Homo sapiens: one gene and its partners. The protein of the gene in region 2 purifies or fractionates together with the protein of the main gene of each other region. This does not show direct contact. Each region holds a gene or a part of one and is shown on either strand. Other genes may lie near its edges. The genes, in order: RANBP2, NEMP1, DLGAP5, ACAD11, RGPD5, FBLN2 and PIP4K2B.

What was found.
Region 1: the proteins of NEMP1 (region 2) and RANBP2 purify together in Homo sapiens (co-immunoprecipitation; 3 studies listed by BioGRID and IntAct, with this or other methods). This does not show direct contact.
Region 3: the proteins of NEMP1 (region 2) and DLGAP5 purify together in Homo sapiens (affinity purification with mass spectrometry; 2 studies listed by BioGRID and IntAct, with this or other methods). This does not show direct contact.
Region 4: the proteins of NEMP1 (region 2) and ACAD11 purify together in Homo sapiens (co-immunoprecipitation; 3 studies listed by BioGRID and IntAct, with this or other methods). This does not show direct contact.
Region 5: the proteins of NEMP1 (region 2) and RGPD5 purify together in Homo sapiens (affinity purification with mass spectrometry, with the first as the bait; 2 studies listed by BioGRID). This does not show direct contact.
Region 6: the proteins of NEMP1 (region 2) and FBLN2 purify together in Homo sapiens (co-immunoprecipitation; one large-scale study listed by IntAct). This does not show direct contact.
Region 7: the proteins of NEMP1 (region 2) and PIP4K2B purify together in Homo sapiens (affinity purification with mass spectrometry; one large-scale study listed by BioGRID and IntAct). This does not show direct contact.

The regions. Positions count from the first base shown.
Region 1 is NC_000002.12:108,778,282-108,782,492, forward strand, and holds part of RANBP2 (E3 SUMO-protein ligase RanBP2), read left to right. Parts: intron 1-2,987; coding exon 2,988-3,148; intron 3,149-3,846; coding exon 3,847-4,120; intron 4,121-4,211. UniProt on the Homo sapiens protein: E3 SUMO-protein ligase which facilitates SUMO1 and SUMO2 conjugation by UBE2I. Involved in transport factor (Ran-GTP, karyopherin)-mediated protein import via the F-G repeat-containing domain which acts as a docking site for substrates.
Region 2 is NC_000012.12:57,054,903-57,058,938, forward strand, and holds the end of NEMP1 (nuclear envelope integral membrane protein 1 isoform a precursor), read right to left. Parts: 3' UTR 741-4,036; downstream 1-740. UniProt on the Homo sapiens protein: Together with EMD, contributes to nuclear envelope stiffness in germ cells. Required for female fertility. Essential for normal erythropoiesis. Required for efficient nuclear envelope opening and enucleation during the late stages of erythroblast maturation.
Region 3 is NC_000014.9:55,181,380-55,185,590, forward strand, and holds part of DLGAP5 (disks large-associated protein 5), read right to left. Parts: intron 2,375-4,211; coding exon 2,181-2,374; intron 1,054-2,180; coding exon 991-1,053; intron 1-990. UniProt on the Homo sapiens protein: Potential cell cycle regulator that may play a role in carcinogenesis of cancer cells. Mitotic phosphoprotein regulated by the ubiquitin-proteasome pathway.
Region 4 is NC_000003.12:132,562,007-132,566,217, reverse strand, and holds part of ACAD11 (acyl-CoA dehydrogenase family member 11), read left to right. Parts: intron 1-4,211. UniProt on the Homo sapiens protein: Acyl-CoA dehydrogenase, that exhibits maximal activity towards saturated C22-CoA.
Region 5 is NC_000002.12:109,855,310-109,858,471, reverse strand, and holds the end of RGPD5 (RANBP2-like and GRIP domain-containing protein 5/6), read right to left. Parts: exon of another isoform or gene 2,783-3,162; intron 2,611-2,782; coding exon 2,576-2,610; 3' UTR 767-2,575; downstream 1-766.
Region 6 is NC_000003.12:13,614,830-13,619,040, forward strand, and holds part of FBLN2 (fibulin-2 isoform a precursor), read left to right. Parts: intron 1-3,246; coding exon 3,247-3,456; intron 3,457-3,551; exon of another isoform or gene 3,552-3,719; intron 3,720-4,074; coding exon 4,075-4,188; intron 4,189-4,211. UniProt on the Homo sapiens protein: Its binding to fibronectin and some other ligands is calcium dependent. May act as an adapter that mediates the interaction between FBN1 and ELN.
Region 7 is NC_000017.11:38,789,188-38,793,398, forward strand, and holds part of PIP4K2B (phosphatidylinositol 5-phosphate 4-kinase type-2 beta), read right to left. Parts: intron 3,699-4,211; exon of another isoform or gene 3,539-3,698; intron 1,182-3,538; exon of another isoform or gene 1,051-1,181; intron 1-1,050. UniProt on the Homo sapiens protein: Participates in the biosynthesis of phosphatidylinositol 4,5-bisphosphate. Preferentially utilizes GTP, rather than ATP, for PI(5)P phosphorylation and its activity reflects changes in direct proportion to the physiological GTP concentration.

The DNA of each region.
Region 1 (4,211 bases), on a different chromosome or scaffold from region 2:
TCTCACTACCACTTGTCATTTTTATTCACCAAGCTCTTGTGTATTGAATGCTTACTTTAGTTAATTTAGATTGTGCTTGTTAAAAATAGTATTTGAAACTGTAAATGCCTTGCAGTCAGTTTTGTTTGTATCCACAGGTTTTCATAGGGAATCTTTATACTTTTGTAAATTTCCAGATAATTTAGAGTTTCAATCTTATTTTCTCTAATGTCTCAAAGCTTGCCAAATTAATTATTCACTTACAGTAACATTACTGTAGGCCCAGTTATGACCTGTGAGACCCAGATATTGATATATTACAAATACTTTTACAAGTGGGTGATTCTAATGTGTTCCCAGGGTAGAGAACCACTATTTTGAAATAATTTTGAATTCTTCTGCCACATGTCCCTTGGGGTTATTTTTTAAATTTTTGCTTTTGGCAAAAAAGTTGCTGAACAATTTTGTTTTTGTTTTTGTTTTTGAGACAGGATGTCACTCTGTTGCCCAGGCTGGAGTGCAGTGGCATGAACACAGCTCACTGCTGCCTTGACCTCCTGGGCTCTAAAGCAATCCTTCCACCTCAGCTTCCCAAGTAGCTGGGACCACAGGTGTGTACCACCATGCCTAGCTAATTTTTACATTTTTTGTAGAGACAGGGGTCTCACTATGTTACCCAGGCTGGTCTCAAACTCCTGGGCTCAAGCAGTCCTGCCACCTTGGCCTTGCACAGTGCTGGGATTGTAGGCATGAGCCACTGCACCTGGCCCTGAACAGTTATTTTTGAGCCCCCAAGTTGGTATCTCATCCAGATCAGTGGTTACTGTTCTCAGGAAGTTCCCATGCAACCTGTGGCTTTTGTTCTCAGATCATTCCTTTGCAATATGTCCTTAAGAATTTTTGTCTTTCTGTCTCTTTTTTTTGAGACGATCATTCTGTTGCCCAGGCTGGAGTGCAGTGGCGCAGATCTCAGTTTACTGCAACCTCTGCTTGCTAGGTTCAAGTGATCTCCTGCCTCAGCCTCCTGAGTAGCTGGGATTACAGGCATGCACTGCAACACCCCGCTAATTCTTTTAGTATTTTTAGTAGAGATGGGGTTTCGCCATGTTGGCCAGGCTTGTCTCGAACTCCTGACCTCAAGTGACCAGCCCGCCTCGGCCTCCTAAAGTGCTGGGATTACAGGCATGAGCCACCACACCCGGCCCTCTCTCCTCTTTAAAAACATTTTTTTTTCCCCTCCATTAAATCTGTCTGAAAGAGAGTTGATTTTTTATTGTGTTCTTTAAGGTACTGAGTTATGTATCCTGTGACATTTTTTCTTTTTCATGAGAGTTTTTAGCAGAAGGTGTAGGGTTCTTTAAGACAGTGATTCAGCAAGTGATAAAAAGTTGAGAGGTGTTTCTTTCCTCTAAGATAGTGGGGACTTGGTCATCTAAATTGAGGTATGGGATGGAGAAGTTTCTAGTTTTCACCTTCTTGCAGGTATGCGAGAGTGAGACCATCATTGTTCCCCCATACAGAAGTAGGATGCTTAACAATCTAATACCCTTTGGGCAGTTGAAGTCAGTGAGATTCTCCCAAGGCTGCTTTCCACCAGCCCAACCAAGAAATCTACATTCCAGCATTAGCTTCTTCAGGAAGAAGTAGAGATGCAGAAATTATAAACATGTTTAGGCCATTGTGGCTAATTTGGAAGTAGCAGGTTTGGCCTGCTGAGCTAAGTTTACAAAATTTCAAGGTGGGTACTTGAAATTTTAGAAGTAGGTAAAAAGAACCTACTTCTTTACTTGGAAGTCCTTGTGTAGTTTAGTATTAGGAAGTTTATCCAAGGCAGTGACAGTCTTATCTTTGTATCGCTAAGCATAACAATAATAAATGTACTCTGTACTCAACAGTATGAGTTGAATTTACTAGCTTTTTTTTTTTTCCTTTTTTTCCTTTTTTTTTTTGGTGACAGAGTCTTGCTCTGTCACCCAGGCTGGAGTACAATGGCACGATCTCTGCTCATTGCAACCTCCGCCTCCCAAGTTCAAGCGATTCTCCTGCCTTAGCTTCCTGAGTAGCTGGGATTACAGGCACCCGCCACCACGCCCGGCTAATTTTTTTTTTTTTTTTTTTTTTAAAGACAGAGTCTTGCTCTGTCGTCCAGGCTGGAGTGCAGTGGGGCGGTATCTGATCACTGCAACCTCTGCCTCTCAAGTTAAAGTGATTCTCCTGCCCCAGCCTCCTGAGTAGCTGGGATCAGTCACCCATGACCACACACTGCTAACTTTTTTTTTTTTTTTTAAAGACAGAATCTTGCTCTGTTGCCCAGGCTGGAGTGCAGTGGGGCAATCTCAGCTCACTGCAACTTCTGCCCCCCAGGTTGAAGCGATTCTTCTGCCTCAGCCTCTCAAGTAGCTGGGACCACAGGCGCATACCACCACTCCCGGCTTTTCTTTTCTTTCTTTCTTTCTTTTTTTTTTTGAGACGGAGTTTCACTCTTGTTGCCCAGGCTGGAGTGCAATGGTGCCATCTTGGCTCACCGCAACCTCCGCCTCCTGGGTTCAAGCGATTCTCCTGCCCCAGCCTCCCGAGTAGCTGGGATTACAGGCATATGCCACCATGCCTGGTTAATTTTGTATTTTTAGTAGAGACGGGGTTTCTCCATGTTGGTCAGGCTGGTCTTGAACTCCTGACCTCAGGAGATGCGCTCACCTCGGCCTCACAAAGTGCTGGGATTACAGGCGTGAGCCACTGCGCCCAGCCTAATTTTTGTATTATTAGTAGAGATGGGGTTTCACCATGTTGGCCAGGCTGGTCTCGAACCCCTGACCTCAGGTGACCTCGGCCTCCCAAAGTGCTGGGATTACAGGCGTGAGGAATTTACTAGAATAATATAATTTTAAACATTTAAAATTGATGTACATATTACATCATCAGGAATTAGAGGGATTGATAAAATAAGAGGGGGATGAAAAATGTAAAAAATAGATACTAGTGTTTAAATATCCTGATTTATTCATCAGATAAAAATTTCCAATGGGCAAATACTGGAGCAGCTGTGTTTGGAACACAGTCAGTCGGAACCCAGTCAGCCGGTAAAGTTGGTGAAGATGAAGATGGTAGTGATGAAGAAGTAGTTCATAATGAAGATATCCATTTTGAACCAATAGTGTCACTACCAGAGGTAAATGTTAAGGAATTAACCTTTTACTAATAACTTATTTTTCATTTTTAAGTTTTACCCTGGCTTGATCTGTCAGGGTATAATTGTTTGCATTTAAGAATGTTTACTGTTTGAAATGGAAGCTCTATTTATTAGATGTCTAGCCTTTAAGTATAAATTATCTTTTTACAGTTTTTACATAAATATTGGTTTGTAAATTCTATATGTAATTATTGGTAAGAAATAATTTTTTCTTATGTTTCTAGAATATCATGTTTGTTTTTATAACATGATTCTGGGGAAAAATTAACCTCATACTCACTAAAGTCCTTTCAATAAATGTTAACCTTGTATGTTTTTTGGACAAGAACATTGTTCTAGGAAAATTACTTTGTCATTTTTTAACCTCAGTCAGTAGCTAATATTTCTCTTCAGTAGCAAACACTTTTGAAACCTCTCTGTCCTATAAAGAAAAGCATTTAATTTCCAAAGGGAAAATGAATATTATATAAAAGAAAATGTTTAATGATAAATCAGGTCTTTACTCCCTCAGCCAAATCAGATATATTCCTAGCCCTAAGATATATAACCAGTTATCACATTAACAAATTCTCTTTGTCATCACAAAGAAAATGCCTTAAAAGAATTTGGATCTTTGAAATTTGTCATGGAATTTATTATAAGCAGCAGCTTATAGAGAATTTCATCTCCTATTATAGGTAGAAGTAAAATCTGGAGAAGAAGATGAAGAAATTTTGTTTAAAGAGAGAGCCAAACTTTATAGATGGGATCGGGATGTCAGTCAGTGGAAGGAGCGCGGTGTTGGAGATATAAAGATTCTTTGGCATACAATGAAGAATTATTACCGGATCCTAATGAGAAGAGACCAGGTTTTTAAAGTGTGTGCAAACCACGTTATTACTAAAACAATGGAATTAAAGCCCTTAAATGTTTCAAATAATGCTTTAGTTTGGACTGCCTCAGATTATGCTGGTGAGTTTTTACATTCAAATGCTACTTTTCATTTTTTGGACTTTTCTAAAATCTATAACAAACAAAACAACTTATAACAGTTATTTTAATA
Region 2 (4,036 bases):
GAGGCTGAGGCAGGAGAATCACTTGAACCCGGGAAGCAGAGATTGCAGTGAGCCGAGATCATGCCACTGCACTCCAGCCTGGGCAACAGGAAGAGACTGTCTCAAATAATAATAATAATAATTAATTAATGAGATGAAAAAACATAGGTACAGAGTTAATATGAATATTACAAAGGATTCCCAGAGCAAAGAAGGTAGCCAATACATAAAATGAAAGGTACCAGACTCCTATGGTAGAAGCTGGGCCTAGACATAATTTAAGTTTTTATTCAATACACATAAGGCTCACTACAGCCCTACTCTCTCTTCCACCCTATACAGAGCTCTTGGTAGGGATCCCATAGCTGGAGCCATAGGTCTTCTCCCCATCCCAATGGACAAACAAAAGAGATACTTTATGCCATAAAAAAAAAAAAAGAACTAAAATATAATCAGAGTAGTTCCTTGGGCCAAGAATAACCTGTATTTTGCTTTTCTATGAGACAGCATGGTAGTACAACCTGCTGCTCCTGCAAGAATACCCCTTAGAGATTTTGCATCCTGGGAAATCATCCAGTCCAAGGATGAAAGTAGACCAGTACAGACTCGGGACAGGAAGGGGTGGCTAAGAAAAAAAGGGAAATCAGTGGCATGCAAAACCATCTCATTAGAAAGATGAAACTGAGGAGTAAATTGCTGATTACCTGAAAACAAGAAATCCAAACAAGAAAATATTATGTTCATTAAGAAAGACCACAATATATCTATAAAACTTTTATTAAAATTGGAATTAGAAACTATACCAAAAACTTTAAAAATACATTAAGACATTGTTCTTTTTTCTTACAGAAAAGAGGGTGAAAATAAGACCCATGGCAAAGAGCCATCCCTGATAATTTTGTTCCTTTCAAACATTCATGAACATTTAAATAAAATTACAAATATTTAAATAACCCTAAGGTATTACCCACAGGCTAAAACTTGCCAGTAATTCCTTAGCCCTGCTATTTCAATATCAATTCCACAAACATGGAAAATTATGGTAACTGCAGGCTGTAACAGTTTCTAATATTCACATTATGAACTATTTGTTATGTTGTCATAAGAATGTGCTCATGCTATAGGCAAATTCAGAGGTGATTTCACCATTTTCAAATTATCATCAAGAGTGTGAAAGAGGAAGATGACACACACGTGGGATGGTGTGGAAATCCAAAGCCCCACATTTTGGGAGTCTGTGACCACTCCCATCTGCCACTAAAGCTACGAGTTGGTGTTGGCATGAATCTGCTTTGTTTATTCCCAGCAGGCTCTGGCTCGTGTCACATAAGGCACCAACATCCTTTTCAAGGTAGTAACCATCTAGAATCAACTCAATTGTAACCTGAATTCATAAGCTTAAGTCACCAAAAGACATCACTGGGTCATAATTATATAGGTTCCCCTAAAAAAATAAAAAAAAAATCAATTTCTGCTATGTAGAAAAAGAAACAAAAGGTTTAGGTGCCTTTGCCTTGTGCAATGGATATTTCATATGTTTATTAATTGGTTTCAGTTAATATGTAATATGAAGGCATGATAAATGTGTCAAACTGTTCTCTTGTTTCAGATACAATTCTTGGCATTTCAATATAGGTTATTATCTCATATGTCAGACTTGAGTCCAGAGAATACTAGAAGGACATTTAATTTCCTTTCCTCCTCCTTCCTTTCACTACTCAATTCAAAGAAAAGTTATGAGTACACAGCTAGGAACCATTTTTACGTAGGCATCCATCTGAGCCCATCTTGTTTTTTTTTTCTAAAACAACAAAAAGACTAAGGACAATTACATAATGCATTCCCAAGCCTTTTATGGATATCAGGGCCTGGGGGGACTATCTGGCCTATTTGGGTTCTTTCATTCACCAAAATTCTATTATACATGCCAAGGGTTAAAGGGAACACCATCAGTCAAGAGACGGCTGGGCCCTAGAATGGAATCTATTAGCATAAAATGGAACAGTGGGACCCAAAGAGCTATCAGCAAAATTCCCTTTGTAACAGACGTAAAAATCATGAATTTGAGGGGAAAAATAAACTAGTTTTGGTGGGATGCAGTGGCTAACAGGAATTACTTATTAGAAGGTAATGAAGTTGCTAAATTTTCCTTGTTTTTGATCCCTGTGTTCTGTTGGTCTCTTGAAGCAATCTGAGTGGGAAAGGAAAGTGAAAGAAATGTTTTATGCCAGCTGCCTCTTGTATTCCCATTAATGGGAGTCTCTACATTAATGCTCTACATAATTTGGTCAGACTGATGAGAGGCAATAGATTTCCAATGCTGATGAGATCCAGAGCCCTGGAGCCCATTTATGGCTTGACATTCACCCAGCAAGACGCTGACGTGGCAGCAAACACGGCTCCAATGTCCAGCTTACCTCATAGTTATCCCTTCAATCCTTCTTGATGAGATTGGTCTGAGAGATGAGACTGTACTGAAATCACAAGAGCTATAACTGCCAGAGAAAAATTAAATGGGGTCTTCAAGTAGTGACTGAGCCAGCAAACTAAGTGGCCAAGAGGGAGACAAGAGCAGCTCCTAAAGAAGGTTGAAGTCAAGCAATCTCCGGAACACAGAGGATCTGAAGCATCTGGGCAGAGCCACAGGCAGGCAGGGCAAGGACACACAGCACACCAGAGCAGCACCGTCCTTCACTGTGTGAGAGCAACTCTCAGGCTGCAGAACCAATTGCCATCTCCACTGCCTACAGCTCAGGTCTCCAACTACCAGATAGGGAGTAAAAAACAGTTTGATTTTATTCACCTCAAGTCTAAACACGGTGGAAAAAAAACTGGTCTAGAGATGGAAACTATATTTCATGGGGGTTTATTAAACAGAGAAAGAGGAGAATCTTTCACAATTTCACAGTGCTTTCTCATTGAAATAAAGACATGATCAGGAAAAGTCACCCTTATAGGCAAGCTATCACCTCCCTAAGTAGGGGAGGCACCAAAATCTCCAGAGAATCCTGAGACCACTTGCACGAGTTGAATTATTTTTTAAAATAAACTTATGCTTAAATATGCTAGGTCTCAATTTCTATAAATAAGGTAAAAAATAGTATATTTCAGAAGTTTTAATAGTTCTTTGTAGAGAGAGAACATTTTACCATGTACATAATTCACAAGGGTATAAAGGTTTCCCAATGTAAAGTTCCTTTTACCCTTCAACTGTAACCCATAGCATCTGCCCAAATACTGCTCATTTTTCACTTTCTACTATATGTCTCTTTCCTGCCAACTGAGGTAGTTGTCACTTAGGACAGTTTAAGGCTCTGGAAAACACTGGTGGAAATAATCAACTGCCCACCTGGAGGGCAGTCTCAGAGCTGACCCTTTGGAAGTCTGCAATGGAGCTAGGCCTTTCAAAATTACCACGCTAAATGGCTGGTCTAAAGGAGTCATTACGGCTTTTTAAAAAATCATCTGCCTTTTTCCATCATCTTGGTGAGCCAGTAAGTCTGGTGCTGTGCGCTTGCCATGACCATCTATCTTCCTGGCTAAGGTAATTACAGACTTTTCCAGGGTATAAGGGTGAAGACCACAAAGAAAAAGAACCAAGTAAATGACAGACACTTGAGAATTTGCTTCCTCACAGATGACATTGCTGGTTTATAAGGGGTACTTTGCAATGGCAAAAGAATCTGAAACTAATGCTACTGCAATAACAGGCAGCATACATCTCAGGTCAGAAACGCAATCATAAATAAGTGTAAGTTCATGGAAACTTGACAGCTGAATGAGCACCCAGAGGCATGAAGATAACCTGGAGCCTATTTCCTGGCAATGCAAATTGTGGCTGCTGCATAACTACAAATTGTGTATCAAGAAACTACATAGTTTCAAGGCTTAAAAATTACCCAGATTTGGGGGAGTATGGGTGGTGAGAAAAGGCTGAAAGGAATGGACAGAGCATGTAGACAAAGGAAGGGAAAGGAAAAGGAGACAGTTTCCTGATTTCATAGCAACTCAAAGATAACATGACCCAATGACAGGAAAATGGAGAACGTATAAAAAG
Region 3 (4,211 bases), on a different chromosome or scaffold from region 2:
ATATGAAATCTGATCATCGTAAATGACCCAACAACAACAACAAAAAACTACCCCAAATAAAATGAGATAAAGAAAAGCTTTCCATTAAGCTTCCAAAAAAGCTTACATCCTTTTTCACAATCACAGAATTTGGAAAATGCTAATAACCCAAGCTATTAAAAACAGCTCACTATAACTTGCCTTCTGAAGGTCCTTAAACACTCCTAGACATACTTTCACTTCAAGACCTTTTAATTTTGCCTAGAAAATACTTCTCCTGGATAAAAAGCGCTTTCCCATGGTTCTCTTCTCCACTTCCATAATGACTTCACTCAAAAGGCTTTCATCTCAGGGAGGCCTTCCTTAACTGCCCAATCAAAATTCTACCCCATACCTATTTCTAGTACACCCCATCTCCCCTTTTTAAAATCTCTTCCATAATACTTATCATCTTCTGGCATATTATGTATTTTTTTAAATGCCTTACATGTAAGTTCCACAAAGAGAATTTAGTTTATTATATCCAAAAGCCTACAACACCAGGAACATCATAGCAATGCAAAATATATATGCATACGTGGAACTTAGCTTCCTCACCTGATAAAGAGGCATATTATTTCCCTTCTTGCCCACTTCACTTTGTTTTAGTAACCCTCCTGATATCTCTATTACAGTATTTTGAAGACCCGTAAGTTTATAACACCTACCCTGTGTGCTTTCCTCCCCATATGCATTTCATGCAGGTAACTTGGAATGCATAATAGGAGCCCACTAAACAAAACAAGAGTGTGACACAAAGACAGTTTGCCATGGATCTCATACGGAATGTTGGAGCAAATATTTTAAGTGAAATTGCTCTACATCACCATACTAAAAACAGTGACTTTGGTACCTGTTAACTCTAGTAAATTAATCATTATGTTTGAATCTGATACTAGATTTAAAATGAATTTACTTACTAAAAAAGTGCAATTTATCATTTTAGTAACAATTATCTACTATCAACTATACCTTAGTCTGCTCCATTTGGTCTTTGGCCTTTGACCTTGTAATCCGTACAGAAGATGGAATAGCCTTAGAACAGTCAAAAGAAGATGAACTTAAAATATGAACTGGTAAAGGTTTACTTCCATATCTTATTACAAAATAAAGTTCCCATTTTAAAGTTAAATTTTATCCTTAATCTCTTATAGCAAAAAGATACTTAAATTCCTTTTTCTGGTTCTAGCTTGATTTAAATTAAGTTAGTAACTTCAAAAATTACTCACATTTCTCAGTGAGAAAGAAATTTCAAACCGTATTTTCCAGGTATTGGAATCATCATTAATATGAGCTTCTATCCTCTCTTAGTTCTCCTGCCTCTCTGACCAGTCCTCAGCCTGGTACCTGGCTTCTGCCTACCTAAAAGTGCTCTCTAGAGCCCACTTTTTCATAATTTTATATATCCTTATTGGAATGGTCTCATTTAGTCCTACAGCTTAAACACTCATCCATATTCCCAATATTATATCCTAAATCGACATCTTAGCACCAATTTCCATCCTTCTTTCCAAATTTTTACTAATATCTAGGTGGCCCACACAAGTTTAAGATTTTTAAAAAGGTTATTAACATGCACCCACTTAAGCTTGTTCCTTATCTTCCTTATCTCTTTTAGCAGCAGAGCTTCTCTCTGCTTTTTCAATTTCCTTTACCCCTCACCATCTACTTGGCCACCAGTCCTGTCAAATGCCTTTATTTAGATGTCTTACACCTATTTTTTCCTTTTAAAACCCACTGCCCCTTTCCATCTATTCTATTACAATAGTCTCACAATTGGTCTCCCTATCTATAAATGCTTCCCTTTCCAGACTAAAATCTTTAGGGCTATGGTATTTTCCTGAATTATTAATTTGACAACGGCACTACCCTTATTTATAAACTTCTCCTGATTCTGCAAAACCTACAGGATAAACACCAAATCCTTTGCATAACATTGTTCAGCCTGATTCTACCAATTTTCCTAGTTTTATCCTATCTCAACTTACCTACAGCTATCTTAAGAGACCTGATTTTCATTCTTCTGAGCTACTATTATGTCATTCCCACCTTCTACCAACCAGTTAATAATGAGACTAAGGGAAAGGGGTTAGTCACTTAATGTCTTGAAGAAAATACCAAATAAAAGAAACTATTCCTTTATATTAAGACACTAAATTTACCTTTTTTGGCTCAGCTTTCACAGCATTCTGGTTTGATAAAAGAAAACAAGGCATATCAGGTCTATAACGACCCACTTTAAATATTCCTCGTTTAGCTTTCTCTCTCTGCTCTTTCAATTTTTGAAGTTGCTTTTCTTCTTTGTATTTTTGGAGCATCTGTTTTCGTTGATCACCTAGAATAGTTTTCATTGCCCCTAGGCAGAAAAAAAACCAAAACCACACAGTATATAAAACATTTCAGATGAAAAGTTATGCAAATGTATAAACAATTATTTTTGTGTCATTTCAACTGCTGCTAAAAAATGCTTTCAGGCCAGGCACGGTGGCTCACGCCTGTAATCCCAGCACTTTGGGAGGCTGAGGAGGGCGGATCATCTGAGGTCAGGAGTTTGAGACCAGCCTGGCCAACGTGGTGAAATCCCATCTCTACTAAAAATTCAAAAATTAGCTGGGTGTGGTGGCGGTCACCTGTAATCCCAGCTATTCGGGAGGTTGAGGTAGGAGAATTGCTTGAACCCAGGAGATGGAGGTTGCAGTGAGCCAAGATTGCGCCCCTGCACTCCAGCCTAAGCAACAGAGCAAGACTCCGTCTCAAGAAAAAAAAAAAGGCTTTCAATAAGCCAGGCACAGTAACACACCTGTAGTCCCATCTACTGGGAAGGCTGAGGTGGAAGGATCATTTGAGCCCAGGAGTTCAAGTTCAGCTTGAGTAACAAAGCAAGACCTCTCCGCACAAAGGGAAATGCTTTTAATATTTCTTGTTAATTCTTTAGCACTCTAACCACAAGTTATTTCAACCCCTAGTCTTTTAAAATTTGTATTCATTTTGCCTTCATGTGTTCAAATATTAACTGCTTGCTATGTAATAGGCATTTATTACTTCACTTTTAAATTAATTAACTTGTATGATAGCCAGCATCCAAGCTGCCCTCTACTGATCCTCACTTCCTGGTAGTCTTGCCCTGTGTCATCCCCTCACACTGAATAGGGCTGACTTGTGTGACCAAGAGAGTATTACAGGAATAATGGAATATGACTTCTAAAACTAGGGTAGTGTTTGCCTTGCTCTCTCTTGAAGCGTCGCTTGCTCTGGGAGAAGCCAGGTGCCATGTGGGGCCTTAAGAAGACTCAAGCAGTCCTATGGAGATGTCCACATGACAAAGAACTACAGCCTCCTTCCAAAAGCCAGCATCAACTTGCTGTTCATGTGAGTCAGTCATCTTGGAGGCAGATCCTCCAGTCTCAGTTAAGGCTTCAGATATATCTCTGGATGACATCTTGGCTGCTATCTTCAGAATCACCCAGCTCAGCCATACCCAAGTTCCTGACCCACAAAAATTGTATGAAATAATCAATATTTATTGTTTTAAGCTGCTAAGTTTTGGGATAACTAATACAATTATAGGTGCTATTTATTATAATAGATGTACTCTATTTCTTCTCACCTACTCAAGGACATTCTTCCAGCAACTTATCCTCTTACTCATCTATTTTTTCCTCTACTGAATTGTTGCCATTATGAAGTTACAAGCATGCGGTAATTTCTCCCAACCTACATCCTCATCTAGCACTTATTTTTCTAGTCCCATTTAAGGCAAAATTCTTCAAGAGAGTTACCTGTATCTCTACTATCAACACTTTTATTTATTTATTTATTTGAGGCAGAGTCTCGCACTGTCGCCTTGGCTGGAATGCAGCGGCGTGATCTCGGCTCAATGCATCCTCGGCCTCCCGGGTTCAAGCGATTCTACTGCCTCAGCCTCCCGAGTAGCTGGGATTACAGGCGCCCACCACCATGCCCAGCTAATTTTTTGCATTTTTAGTAGAGACGGAGTTTCACCATTTTGGCCAGGGTGGTCTCGAACTCCTGACCTCATGATTCACCCACCTCGGCCTCCCAAAGTGCTGGGAGTACAGGTGTGAGCCACCACGCCTGGCCTTTTTTGAGACAGAGTCTCACTCTGTCGCCCAGGTTGGAGTGCAGTGGCGCAATCTTGGCTCACTGCAACCTCCACCTCCTGAGTTCAAGCA
Region 4 (4,211 bases), on a different chromosome or scaffold from region 2:
CCCCTCTGTTCTGCTGTGGAACCCATTTACTGAGCTTTTTATTTGAACTGTTATATTTTTTACTTATAAAATACCCATTTGGTTTTTCTTTACATCTTCTATTTCTTTGCTGAGGCTTTCTATTTTTTCAATTGCTTCAGCTGTGTTTGTAACTGCTCACTGAAGCATTTTTATCATGGCTGCTTTAAAATTTTGTCAGAAATTCTAACATCTCTGTTATCTGGGTGTGTTAGTCCATTTTATAGTGCTATTAAGGAATACCTGAGACTGGGTGATTTATAAAGAAAAGAGGTTTTGTTTGGCCCATGGTTCTGCAGGCTGTACAAGCCTAATGCCAATGTCTATTTCTGGGGAGACCTCAGGAAGCTTACAATCATAGTGGAAGGTAAAGGGGGAGCCAGCACATCACGTGGCAACAGAGGGAACGAGAGATAAGGGGGGACATCCCAGACTCTTTTAAACAATCAGATCTCATGTGAACTCATTACTGAAGAGAAGGCATAAAACCATTTATGAGGGATATTCCCCCATGACCCTCCCACTAGGTTCCACCTTCATGTTTCAATATGCGATTTGGAGGAGACAAGCATCCAAACTATATCACGGTGTCTCTTTATTTTTTAAAAATTAATTTTGAATTGTTCCAGGTTTTTGGTATTATGGGTGATTTATAAAATTGAAACCTGAACAGTTTTATACTGTGAGACTCTGGACCTTTTTAAACCTTCTTGGCTTTCTTTGACACCATTCTGTCAGAGAAAGGAGTGGCATCACCTCATTACTGCTAGGCAGAGAGAGAAGTCCAGGTTCCCCTCCCAGCTTCCATCAGTACCTGAAGAGGATGATGCCCTCATACTGCCAGGTGGGATGAAAGTCCAGGCATCCCATTTGGACTGCACTAACAACCCATAAGATGGGTTGGGGGGACTTATTACTGGCCAGTGGGGAGGAAAGCCTCAGGTTTTTACTTGGCACTGTCTGATACCTTCCTGGCAGGGGAGCTGGGGCACCTCATTACAGTGCTTGCCAGGGTGGAAGCCTACGCTCCCCATCCTGCCTTTGCTGGTGTGAGGAGTGGTGGGGGCCAATGTTTTTTCTGTGGTGTTTGGCTGGAGTAAAGTGGTTATTCTCTAAAAGATTTTTGGCTTGCTAGGCTGCATCTTTCCTGATCCTTTGGTTAGAGAGATTATACTTTTGTTGGGGTGCTTTATGTTTTTGTTTTGTTTTGGTCTGTGCTCACTGACATTTCCAGGTTACTAGATTCTTCAGCTGCCGGGAAGAACCTCAGCAGCTGAGATATATGAGGCAAAAAGAAAACCTAGGAAACACACCACTAGGTTATTCTTTTGGACCTGAAGTCCCTAAATAGTCTGCCTTTTCTCTACCTTTCAGAGTCTTCTTATGTTTGTTTTATAGATAATGCCCAGGGTTATTAGTTGTACTTAACAGAAGGAATAGAGAAAAATATATCGATTCCATCCTTGTTAGAAGCAGAGGATATCAGACATACTTATTTTCTTAGTCTGTGTAGGCTGTCTGTAAGCCACAATGCAGAGCTCTCTGGGAAAACATGGATTGGAGAATGGGGTCTGGAGCCAAGGCTGAAGTAGAGTCTCCTCCATTCCAGATCTAGGACTTGGGACCCACACGCTCTAGTATGTGTACAAAGCACATAAAGTTAACAATTTAGATGAAGTAGACCAATTCCTCAAATCCCATGAACTATCAAAACTCACCGAAGATGAAGTAGATAACCTGAATAGTTCTACAACTATTGTTAGAAGTTGAATTCAAAGTTAAAAAGCTGCTGAAAAAAGAAATCTTCAGGCCCAGATGGTATTACTGGTAAATTCTACTAAACAGTTAGAGAAGAAGTAACACCAATTTTACATATCTATTCCAGAAATAGAGAAGGAGGAAACACTTGTCAACTCATTTTATGAGGCCAGAATCATCCTAATCCAAAACCAGACAAGAACAAACCATAGACCAATATAGATGCAAAAACCACCAGCAAAGTATTACCGAATAGAATCTGGCAGTATGTAAAAATAATCATACAGCATAATCAAGTAGGGTTTATCCCACAAATGCAAGCCTGATTCATGTCTATAACTCGATAATTAAAAATAAATTATTATAATCTGCCAAACTAACAGCAAAAACTGCATGAACATTAAAAAAATCACATGATCATATCAATTGATGCTTTGGCATTTGACAAAATTCAGCATCTGTTTATGATAGAAACTTTCAGCAAACTGGGAATACAAAGGAATTTACTCAACTTTATAGAGAGTATTTTTAAAAATCTAACATCATACTTAATGATGAAAGACTAAATGCTTTTCCCCCAAAACTGGAAATGAGGCAAGAATGTTCACCCTCACTATTCCAATTTATGATCATAGAAGAATTCCTAGGCAGTGCAGTAAAACAAGAGAAAAAAAGTGCATGTAGTTGGGGGAAAAAAGAAGTAAAACTGGGCCTGCTTGTAGATGACAATGTGATTGTATAGAAAATCCTAAGGAACGTATCAAACAAAACGAAACAACCCTCCCAGAACTAATAAGTGAGTTTAGCAAAGTCACAGGATACAAGGTCAGTACGTAACAATTTTATTTTTATATACAAGCAATGAACAATGGGGGAACTGAAAGTTTTAAAATACCATTTACAACAGTTTTTTTTAAGTACTACTCTACCAAAACACGTACAATATCCACATGCACTAAAAAGTAGAAAAAAGTGATATAATAAATCAAAGGAGACCTAAGTAAATATGTAGATTAGAAGACTAACAGATTAAAGATGTTAACCATCCTCAAATTGATCTGCAGACTTAAGGCAGTTCCAATCACAGTCCCAAAAGGACAATTTTGTAGATAAAGACAGACTGATCCTAAAATTTATATGGAAATACAAAAACACTAAAGTAGCCAAAACAATTTGAAAAAGAAGAAAGCTCAGTGAATCACACTACCTAATCTTAAGACTTACTCTAAACTACAGTAATCAGTGAGCAAAAGGCATGTAGATCTTTGGAGCAGAAGAGAGAGTCCAGGAATAGATTCATAGAAATATAGGCCAATTAATTTTTTACATAGGTGCAAAGGCAGTTCAATGGAAAAGGTTACATCTTTACAGTAAATGGTGTTGCAGCAATTGGACATAGATAGGCAAAAGAGGGACCCTTGATCTAAACCACACACCTCACACAAAATTTTAACTCTAAATGGATCATAGATCTAAATGTAAAAGGTAAAGCTGTAAACTTTTAGAAGAAAACATAGTGGAAAAATCATTTTCTGGGATTAGGTAAAATGTTCCTAAACATGCACCAAAAGCAAGGCTCATAAAAGAAAGAATTGACAGATTTCTCATGTGGCAAATGACTAGCGTCCTGAATATATGAAGGACTCTCTAAATCAAATAGTAAGAAAACAACCCAATTAAAAAATGGACAAAAGACTTTAACAGACATATCACCAAAGAGGTATAGAGATGGCAAATCAGTACATTGAAGGGGATCAACAGCAGTAGCCATTACAGAAATGCAAATTAAAACCATGATATCTCTGCACACTTAAAATGACTAAAATAAAATATGATACTAAGTGCTGATGGTTTGAGGAGCAACTGGAACTCTCATACACTGCTAGTAGGAATGCAAAATGTACAACCACTCTAGAAAACTGTCAGCTTCTTAATAAACATTTACCACTGACCCAACAATTCTACTCCTGCTATCTGCTTTAAAAAATGAAAACATGTCCACACAAAAACCCGTATACAAATACACAGAAACTCTATGAATAATCTCGCGATGGCTCACGCCTGTAATCCCAGCACTTTGGGAGGCCGAGGCAGGCAGATCACAAGGTCAGGAGTTCAAGACCAGCCTGGCCAATATGGTGAAACCCTGTCTCTACTAAAAAATACAAAAATTAGCCAGGCATGGTGATGGGCGCCTGTAGTCCCAGCTACTCAGAGGCTGAGGCAGGAGAATCGCTTGAACCCAGAAGGTGGAGGTTGCAGTGATCTGAGATGGCGCCACTGCACTCCAGCCTGGGCGACAGAGCCAGTCTGTCTCAAAAAATAAATAAATAAAATTTAAAAACTGGCAACAACCGAAATGTCCTTCAACAGGCAAATGGATAAACCAACTGATACATACTTACAATGGAATACTACTCAGCAATAAAAAGGAA
Region 5 (3,162 bases), on a different chromosome or scaffold from region 2:
GAGCCACTGTGCTGGGCCAAATTTGGTTCTTAGAAACCAAGGAGTGATGTGTGCACCAGGCCCAGGGCTGAAGAGCTGCTTCTCACTAGATGCCTCTCTTGGTCTGGCTGCTGTGTCCAGTCCTATCCAGGGTTAGCTCTGTTCCTCCTCCTTGTGGCATCTGTGTTTCTCTTTCTGCTCTGCCTCTCCCCATCTCCTAGTCCAAACATCCAAAGAAATAAATTACCTCCAGGAGATCGAGACCATCCAGGCTAACACGGTGAAACCCTGTCTCTAGTAAAAATACAAAAAATTAGCCGGGCATGGTGGCCGGCGCCTGTAGTCCCAGCTACTTAGGAGGCTGAGGCAGGAGAATGGCGTGAACCTGGGAGGCAGAGCTTGCAGTGAGCCGAGATCGCGCCATTGCACTCACGCCTGGGCGACAGAGCAAGACTCTGTCTCAAAAAAAAAAAAAAAAATTAATGACCTCTGCCCCTAACTGAACAAAGCCCTTCATCTAAGGCCACCCTTTGGTTGGCAGCCTTAGCCAGACATCTGCTTCTGGTCAAATCAATGTCTTGTCCACAGGGAGGCCCAGCGCTGTTTCTGGTTTTAGCTGGATGCAGGGTGTCAGACATGGCAGGTACTACGGTCTACCTGGCGGGTATCAAAGAGTTGGTCGACGTTCTCACAACAACCTAATAGGGACCAACCATGGAAGGCCAGTAGTAAAGGAGTTTGAAGTTCCCTTTCAGAAACCAATTAACAACCCCAAAGAGACAGTGGGTAACATAAAAGAGCAGCCATAAAAATATACAGTTTTAATAGAAATATTAAAATAATCATTACACTTCCTCTCATTGCAGAAACCATGAAAGAATATGCCTTTTGTAATCAAAGTAATTTTTTATCATGCAAAAAAGTATTTTGTTATGACATTCGTAAGTGGAGACTGTATTTCAAAACAAGTTTATACAGACTTCAAAAGGTCTAAAGTCAAAGTGAAATATATTTAAATATGATTAGTTACATCTAATGCAGCTGGCATACTCATATTCACAGTTTATAAAGTAAAAAAACTAAACTCTTCATGTCGGCTCTGAAATAGATGCATTTTCATTCATACATTCGCTAGTTAGGTCTGTTCTTCTAAGGAGGAAAGACGAGATATATGAGATATTTTTTAAAGAACAAACTCAACATATCAGCAGCAAATTTCAGTTAAACTAAATTGGAAACCAATGTTCTGTGTAACCAAAGTGCAAAGTCAGTTCCCCAGCTCAGAAAGAAAATTAAGAGTATAAACTGAAGGCTTAAGAGAACTTCAGAGAGCACACTGTGTGATTAATACATAAATATTAAAAATTATCCAATTTTTGATTTAAGAACAACACAGTTTGGATCTAGTCATTAAAACATATGCACAGGTGTCAAAGGCAAGTAACACTACCACCTAAGGTTATTCGGAGGAACTGTGAAGATGTAGCACGGACCTCTAAGGTGTCTAAAATCCCTTCTGATGGAAAGGTTATGGAACACTATCTGCCAAAAACACTGAAAGCACCACTTTTATATTTAGATCCAATGCTGAGTGATATAGTCACTGTTGGGATAGGTTTTTATTTGGGAAAATGGAGAGGATTCTCAAAACAGATTCATGGCTTGCATGCAGTGACACCCTATCAAGAGCCTGGAAAGACACCATGAAATCACCTCAACTCAAGTGGTGGGCCCACCTACTCATAGTCAGTGTTACACTAGCCAGCTCTAGGGCTCTGACAACATAATGAGTTTTGAGGTAGTATACTTTAAAGAAAAAAAGAAGAGTTTATTTTAAAGCAAATAACTAAACTGTATTTTAACTTAGCACAATTAACTGCAGCATATTTACTTCATAGCCCCTTAACATGTCACTTTTACCAACAAAGCTTTTTCCTTCATATTCTAATCACAAAAATTTCTCAACAATTTATAACAATCTGTAAATCTGACCTTGCAATAAATAGTCATAAAACGTTATTTTTATTACTATTATTATTTTTAGAGACAAGGTCTCGCTCTGTTCCCCGAGCTGGAGTGCAGTGGTACAATCACAGCTCACTAGCCTCAAGCGATTCTCCAGCCTCAGCCTCCCAAAGTAGTGGGATTTCAGGCATGAATCACCACACCTGGCCTTGAAACATTATTTTTAAAGCCTAAATTCCAGTTGGTATGGTACCAAAATTTAGTTTAACTTCAAAATTCACAGTACTGCCGAGAAATGGGCGGGTCCTGAGGTTCCAGAGAAGTGGGGAGTGAATTCATTCCTGGTGGTTTTATTCTGGCAGCATGCATGGGAGATCACATGAGTTAGAGGGCTGTGGCCTGGTATCAACACTTCAAGCTGTTGTACTTTTACTTCAAGTTGAAACTTTTAAAATACATCTGTCATACAGATGTACAAATATATGTAAATGCAAACATATATACACACTTTTTGACAAAAGAATAATGGTAACACACACGAACCATTTTTGTAAACAGATTCTATTTGGTTAATAGAAGTATTCCTTCCATCAACCTATCGAAGTCCAAACCAACTACGAAGATAGGATGCTCATCCAGAAGAACGGGAAGCATTTTCTTCCTCATCTTTAGAAAGTAAAACAAAGAAAAAAAAAAGAAAAAAGAGAGTATTAAAATTTCTCAATGTAAAATCTATATTTTAGAACCACTCTACAATATAAGCAAATAATGTCTTTTTTACTGATCACATGCCTTTTTTGGTGGGGGGGGGGGGTTCTTTTTTTTTTTTTTTTTTTGAGATAGGGTCTTGCTCTGTCACCCAGGCTCGAGTGCAGTGGCGTGATGAGACTTCAATGCAGCCTTGATCTCCCAGGCTCAAGTGATTCTCCCACCTCAGCCTCCCAAGCAACTGGGACCACAAGGTGTGTACCACCATGCCTGGGTAATTTTTTGTTTTTTTGTAGAGATGCAGGTCTCACTGTTTTCCAGGCTGGTCTCAAATTCCTGGGCTCAAGTGATCCTCCCACTTCAGCCTCACAGTGTTGGGATTGCAGTCACGAGCCACTGTACCCAACCATATGTCATTCTTTAGACACACTGCTTACTAAATTTCTCTTTTTAAAGGATATACTGAATTTCCGGTTGAGCCAACTTAACAGCTAATTTTCTATTTTAGCT
Region 6 (4,211 bases), on a different chromosome or scaffold from region 2:
ACCTACCCATCCATTCATTCATTCATCTGTCCATCTGTCCATCTATCCATCTGTCTGATCATCTATTCATCTATCCATCCATCCATCCATCCATCCATCCATCCATCCATCCACCCACCCATCCGTCTGTTCATCCATCTGCTTATCCATCCATCCATCCATCCATCCATCCATCCATCCATCCATCCATCCATGCATCCATCCTCGTTGTCCTTGGTGTCACCCCCTTCTTCTTCCCTTCTTGTGCTGTAGCCACTGTTCCAGCTGCCATGTCCAGTCCCTGTCCCCTAGCCAGGGCTGTCTCCTGGACCCATGACCATTAGCCTCCTCTGTGCCTGGTGGGTCTGCAGGAGCCTGATGAGGGTGCCCCAGTGAGTCAGCAGATGTCCTTTTTGTACATGGGCCTTGGTGGCCCTGGGGCTGGTGCCGTGAGAGTCCTGGCAGGCCTGCTTTGTTGGTGTCCACATGTTCAGCCTCAACTGGTTGGGGACCAGATGTCCAGGTAGGTTCCAGAACCACCAGCCCAGTTTTTTCGCTGTTCCTATGGACCGTCATCTGGGGCCCCTGTGGATTTGTCCTGGGCACTTCATGGAGTGGGAATTAAAGCCACAGATGAGGTCCTGGTATCAAGATTAAACTCTTGGCCTCTGGAGTCAGGCAGACTTGGTTGGAATCCTAGTTCCTTTGCTTACCTGGGGCAGGTCACACAGAAGGAAGGCTCCTTCTCAGAGCCTTCACTGTGGCATCTGTCAAATGGTCTTGTATTCTTTACCTTGTTCAGTGCAAGGATGAATGATAGGATGCCTGTCAAGGGCTTTTGGCAGTGCCTAGTGATGCATTCAGCATTGCCACCACTGTTGCTGTTACCGTTGCCGTGCTTCAGCAGCTCAGAGGGGGAAGATGAGGCCCAGAGAAGGGCAGGATCTTGCCCCAGGCACATGCCGGGTCTTTGGCACAGCCAGGACTGGACACCTTGGCTCTAATGACTCCCACTTCTGCCCCAGCCTTCCTGATGCCCTGAGTTTTATCTAGACCCAGTCAGCCTTGGTTCCGATTGACCCAGATCTCTGTCACTATAATGCAAGATGGCAGAAGTCTGTGCATAGGGGTTAAGATGCCTGCTGTCCACAGGTGCCAGGGCTCAGGAGATCCTACAGGAAGAGCTCATATCCTGTGTGGTACAGGTGGGAGAACAGATACCTGGATCTCCCATCAGGGTGAGGCAGAGGCAGGGGTGAGTGTGTGGGGGTTGGACCAGGCCAGACCTGGGCAGATCAACCAGAACAGATGTACCAACCACCCTTGCCAATCCAATGTGGGTACAGAGAGTAAGTCCAGTCCAAGGAAGTGCTACTTGCTGAGATTGGCTCTAAGGGGAATGGTTGAGTACTGGTGTGAAGGCCAGGTTAGTACCCAGAAGAGTCTGGCTGAAGGTAGAGTTTGGGAGGAAGTCCGGCTTCAAAAGTCAAAGGCAGGTGGGTGGAAGGGAGTAGGTGGGCAACAGAGCCAGGCACGATCCTGGCCAGAGATCCATGCTTCCTCCTGTGAGGAAGATGCTGGTGAGGGTGAGCTGAGCCTGAATCCTGGAGGTACTGTCTAGCCTGTGGTGTGCTAGGAGGAGCCCTGGGTCCAGGTCTGTCCGCCGCCTGCCTGCAGTGCTGAGTCTCTGCGGGACCAGACCGCCAGCCATCATGGCCCTGCCTGGAGGCACCGGCTGGGACTGATTGGGCTGCAGCTTAATGTAAACACCCTCCATATGAAACACGTTCCTCATACGTGACTTCATGCAGCTACTCTCTCTGTGGGCTCTGCTGCCTGGGTGGGGTGGGAAGGAGGCCCTGGGCTGGCACAGAGCTTAGAGGGGCTGTAGGCCTCCCCCTGAAGTCCTGGCTGCATGCTTTCCCCACAGTTGTCATACAAAGAGCTTCCCAAGGCAGCTCAGCCTCAGGAGCCTTCTTTTCCACTCTCACCTGCTCCCCAGCACAACCCTGGGAGATGGGTTTATTCCAGAATCTGGAGGCACAGAGAGGCCTAGTGCTGCCCAAGTTGACCCAGCTAGGGAAGGCCCAGGTCAGTGGTCACATCTGATCCAATAGAGCCCAGATTTGGAGCCCTTTCTGCTGCTAAGGATGATCCTCCTTGATGTCACTGAGGTCAGGGGTCTGAATCCATTGTAACACTTTAGTGAGAGCTTCTTTGTGGATCTGACCCTGTCCTATTGTAGAGGACTCAGTGATGAAGACTTGGACCTGGCTCTGATGGGTTCATTCTTACTGCTTGAGGTCTGTTCATTCATTTGCCCATCCATTCATCAATCCATCCATCCATCCATCCATCCATCCATCCATCTATCCATCCATCCATCCATCCATCTACCTACCTACCAGTCCATCCATCCGTCTGTTCATCTGTCTGTCCACCCATCCATCTACCCATCCACTCATCCACTCTTTCATCTACCCATTCATCCATCCATTCAGCCCCACACCCATTCATCCATCCATTCACGTATCCATCCACCTACCCATCCTTCCATTCACTCATCCACCCATCCACCCACTCACCCATCCATCTATCCATCTACTCATCCATTCATCTACCCATCCATCTATCCATCCACCCACCCATCCATCCATTCAGCCAAATACTCATTCATCCGTCTACCCATGTATCCATCTATCCACCCATCCTTCCATCTACCCATCCATCCTCCTTCATTCATCCACCCATCCAGTTACAACCCATCCACCCATCCATCCATCCATCCATCCATCCATCCATCCATCCATCCACCCATCCACCCACCCATTCATTCACCCACCCATCTACCCACCCATCCACCCACCCATCCATCTAACCATCCATCCATCCATCCATCCATCCATCCATCCATTCATCCACCCCCCCCACCCCCCCACCCATTCATTCACCTACCCATCCACCCACCCATCCATCTACCCATCCACCCACCCATCCACTCACTCACCCATCCATCCACCCATCCATCTACCCATCCATCTATACCCATCCGTCTATCTATTTACCTGCCCACCCACCCATCTATCCATCCATCTATCCACCCATCCACCCACCCACCCATCCATCCATCCTGCTTCATCCATCCTTGCTGTCTGCTGGGCACACAGAGGTCTTGATGAGGACCTGCACTAGTTTCCCAAAGCTGGTTGTCTCAGCCACCTACTCTGACCAAGCTGGCTCTGTCTTGAGCTCTAACCCCTGTCCTAGTTTCAGAGGCAGAGATGGCGGGCCGAGAGGCCCTGTCACTGGGCACAGAGGCCGAGCTGCCGAACAGCCTGCCGGGCGATGACCAGGATGAGTGCCTTCTCCTCCCGGGAGAGCTGTGCCAGCACCTTTGCATCAATACTGTGGGTTCTTACCACTGTGCCTGCTTTCCTGGCTTCTCACTGCAGGACGATGGCCGCACTTGCCGCCCAGGTAAGGGCCCTGATGGCCAGGGCAGGGGCTATGGGAAGGGCTGATCTTGCCAGGGGGTGTGGCATTCCTGGGGTGCACACTGTGGGGTCCTTCACTTCCTGTTACCCCACAAGTTGGAACCCACAGAAGCCTGAAGCTTCCAGTGATGGGGGATTTGTGAGGCAGGAAAAATAGAAGCTTTCTTCCTGGGGCTCCATCTGCAGGGACCTGGCCCCAGCACCTTGTCCCATATTCGAGCGCAGGGACAGGCTCAGGCCACAGAGGCTCTCACCAAAACCCAGCTATCTCCCCAGTGCTGGGCCCATGGTGATCCTGAGGGATTTCCTCCCAGTCACTGGTCCCAGAATTGATTGGTTTTTAATCCAGACACTCTTTTTCCTTTCCCCCCTCTCTTCTTCCTTGCCTCCTTTCCTTCTACCCCCTCTGCCCCCAGTAGCTGAGATTGATCTTTCCCAAGGTATATGCACACTCCAAACCTCATTTTCCTCTCCTGTGAAATGGGGTGGGGGATTAAATGTCAGTGCCCTGTGTGAGAAGGGCAGGTGCCTGGAAGTGCCTGAGGCCTGGCTGAAGACCTGAGACCTCCCTGCAACCCCCACTCTGCTCTACCCATGACAGAGGGTCACCCTCCACAGCCGGAAGCCCCACAGGAGCCTGCACTGAAGTCAGAATTTTCCCAGGTGGCCTCTAACACCATCCCGCTGCCACTGCCGCAGCCCAATACCTGCAAAGGTAAGCAGTGTGGGTGGTGTCTC
Region 7 (4,211 bases), on a different chromosome or scaffold from region 2:
AGATGGGGCAGGATGCCTTGCCTCTACTGCAAACAAACCTTCTGACTTTCATCCCTTCAGGGAGCTGGATCCTAGACAGAGAGCTAGCTTTCCATTGGTGCAGAGATGAGGGCAGATCCTGCCCTTCCCCACCTCGAGTTTAGCCAGTTAGTGGTCTAATTAACCACAGATGTCCTCTCCCATCACAGCAGAGTATTTGACATTTGACCCTCAACCCAGTTGCCACTAATGCATTCAGGATTTACAGAGGAAACCTTAGTCCTGACTTAATGGACTGGGGGGAGGGGGCACAGCCTTGTGTCTCCCACTTTCCTTGCAAATCCTGTTATCTCAATGAGGCCCCAGGTGGCAGTGAGGGGATAACCTAGAGTCATTAGAACTCCTCCAGGAGCATAAATGGGGGAAATGGCATTTAATTTGCTGCTCCTTTTATGTTACAAACCTTTTTTATTTAGAAATGTCAGAGAATGGAGGAAGTTCAAGTTAATGCAGTAACTGGGCTGGGGAACCATATCTTCCTAGAGTTGGGAAAAAACCCAATTTACTCATGGAGAAATGAAGGAAGCCATAGGAATGCACGTGCTTTGAGAGGGATGCTGGGGGCAGGGTAGTTTATAAGTTGGCAGTGGAGCAGACACTAGGTAAACTGCTGGCAAAAACTGGCATAGACACAAGAGTGTATCCTGTATAATTCCATTTATATGAAATTCTACAGCAGGCATCTATAATGAGAGAAATGAGATGAGTTGCCTGGCCAGGGGGCGGGGGGTGCTGAGTGTAAAGGGACATGAGAAGTGTGATTCTACGGTGACAGAAATGTTTTATATGTTGCTTGGGGTGATGGTTACATGAGCAAATACATTTGCTGAAATTCATCAAATTGTATACTTAAAATACGCACACTTAATATACATAAATTATTCCTCAATAAAGTTGATTTTTAAATTCCCAGCATCAAGCTCTGTGATACCCTTCATTGGCTAAACCCTCCCAATAGCCAAAAAAAACCCCAGAAGAGTCATGCCAGTTCCTATTCCAGGGGGTGCTCACAAGAGAATGTGACTGTCAAATCTGTGCCTACAGAGGAAACCATTCCACTTCTTTGTTTTTCTGCCAACAGAAACAATTCGTGGTGGCTGTCCCATTTCCTTTTTCCTGGCATATCAAGCCTGGCTCCGAGACTTAAAGGGAAAACAGAGACAAAGAGTTCAGGGCTCGGCTGGGCGCAGTGGCTCACGCCTATAATCCCAACACTTTGGGAGGCCTAAGGGGACGGATCACGAGGTCAGAAGATCGAGTCTTGCTCTGTTGCCCAGGCTGGAGTGCAGTGGCAGAATCTCCGCTCACTGCAACCTCTGCCTCCTGGGTTCAAGCGATTCTCCTGCCTCAGTCTCCTGAGTAGCTGGGATTACAGGCGCATGTCACCATGCCCTGCTAATTTTTGTATTTTTAGTAAAGATGGGGTTTCACCATGTTGGTCAGGCTGGTCTCGAATTCCTGACCTCGTGATCTGCCTGCCTCAGCCTCCCAAAATGCTGGGATTACAGATGTGAGCTACTGCACCTGGCCCAGCCTAGGAAATTTTTAACTCAGCTAACATTGGTGAACAATCCATATCTCAACTAGGGGAGACTTACCCCTCATTTCTACTAGGCCACATGTAGATGATTCACTGTAGGGATTAGCCCTATTATTATTATTTTTTTAGTTGTGTGAAATTTTATATCCCAGAGAGTTCTATTCCATTTCAATTGAACTGTTCCTATTGAAATATCTGCTACGTGCTTCATTCTGTTAGGTAGGTGTGTGGGAGGAGGAGAACACAAGGGGAGAAAGTGTTGTACATGCAAAAGAAACAGGAGGCTTATAATCTCATCAGGGAGATGAAAAAAAACCCTGACACCCTCAAAGTCAAAGCAGTATGCAATTAAGTGAGAATCCAGGGATACAGACATCAAGAACAGCAGAGGCTCAGAGAAGGATGAGGCTAGCATGGCCAGAGGGTCAGGCTCCCAGTCCTCATACATCAGGCCAGAAACAAGGCACCTAATGCCTCTCCTGGTATTGCACCAAGAGCACTTGACATTAGGAGAATCTACAAGATCATGCTACACTCCTGCTTAGAAATCTTCCATGGCTGCTCCTCTCAACCTCAGGGTAAAGTTTTAACTGCTTAGCCTGGCATTCAAGGCCTTTCCTAATCTGGCTCAGACTGCCAATTTTTTTTTTTTTTTTTTTTTTTTTTTGAGATAGAGCTTTGCTCTGGTTTCCCAGGCTGGAGTGCAATGGCGTGCTCACCGCAACTTCCGCCTCCCGGGTTCAAGCAATTCTCCTGCCTCAGCCTCCTGAGTAGCTCGGATTATAGGCATGCACCACCATGCCCGGCTAATTTTGTATTTTTAGTAGAGATGGGGTTTCTCCATGTTGGCCAGGCTGGTCTCGAACTCCCGACCTTAGGAGATCCACCTGCCTCGGCCTCCCAAAGTGCTAGGATTACAGGCGTGAGCCACCGCGCCCAGCCAGACTGCCAAATTTCTATTCAATTTACTTCTACTCAGTGTATTAAGGGCCTTACTATATGCTAGGAGCTGGGGATACAAAACCAAAAAGACATCTGCAGAGCTGGGCGTAGTGGCTCACGCCTGTAATTCCAGCACTTTGGGAGGCCGAGGCGGGCGGATCATGAGGTCAGGAGATCAAGACCATCCTGGCTAACACAGTGAAACCCCGTCTCTACTAAAAAAAAATACAAAAAAAAATTAACGGAGCATGATGGCGGGCACCTGTAGTCCCAGCTACTCGGGAGGCTGAGGCAGGAGAATGGCGTGAACCCACAAGGCGGAGCTTGCAGTGAGCCGAGTTCATGCCACTGTGCTCCAGCCTGGGTGACAGAACCAGACTCCGTCTCAAAAAAAAAAAAGCAATGAGTTCACTCTATGCTGATCTACTGGAGATGAAAATTCCTTGATTGATTGATTGAGACAGGGTCTCACTTCCATAGGCCAGGCTAGAGTGCAGTGGTATGATCTCAGCTCACTGCAGCCTCAACTTCCTGAGCTCAGGTGATTCTCCCATCTCAGCCTCCCTAGTAGATGGGACTACAGGTGTGCCATCATGCCCAGCTAATTTTATTTCTAGTAGAGACAAGTTTTCGCCATGTTGCCCAGGCTGGTTTCAAAGCCCTGGGCTCAAGCAATCCATCCACCTCAGTCTCTCAAAGTGAGAGGTATGATTCTGTTGTACATATACAACAGAATACTATTCAGCCTTTAAAAAAAAGAAGAAAATTCTGCAATATGCAACATGGAGATGAAAATTCAGCAGCTAGTTCTAGTCTGGTGAACTTGTGTGTCCAGAAGCCTCCACTTCCCTGTGCGACCTTCATAGGAATTGTTACCTAGGATGCCTGGACTAGGCATGCAGGTTTCCTGACATGTTCCAGTCCTCTGCTGTCGGTTCAGCAGTGGGCTGGCCACCACCAGCAATCACTTGTTACCTGCCACCATCAGAAAACATGACATGCTAGAAATACACTCACAGGACCGAGGAGGTCCAAAGCAAGAACTGCAACTCCAGAGAGGAAGAGAGGGCCACAGGAGCCAATAAATCTACCGGTGTTTACTCCTCCTTTCCATATCTTGCTTTCTCCTTCTCCTGCTGTTTGAGTCCCACTGCTCCCTGTGAGGTGGGAAGGCCTGCTAAAAGAAACTTCATTCAAAGGCCTGAGTAGGAATGTTCTCTAAAGATTTTTTTTTTTTTGAAACGGAGTCTCACTCTGTCGCCCAGGCTGGAGTGCAATGGCGCGATCTCTGCTCACTGCAACCTCCGCCTCCCGGATTCAAGCCATTCTCCTGCCTCAGCCTCTTGGGTAGATGGGATTACAGGCGCATGCCACCACACCCGGCAAATTTTTGTATTTTTAGTAGAGACAGGGTTTCGCCATGTTGGCCAGGCTGGTGTCAAACTCCTGACCTCAAGTGATCCGCCTGCCTCGGCCTCCCAAAGTGCTGGGATCACAGGCGTAAGCCACTGCTCCCAGCCATCTCTGAAGATTTTTTCTTTTTTTTTTTTTTTTGAGACGGAGTTTTGCTCGTCACCCAGGCTGGAGTGCAATGCCGCCATCTTGGCTCAATGCAACCGCCGTCTCCCAGGTTCAAGTGATTCTCCTGCCTCAGCCTCCCGAGTAGCTGGGATTACAGGCATGCGCCACC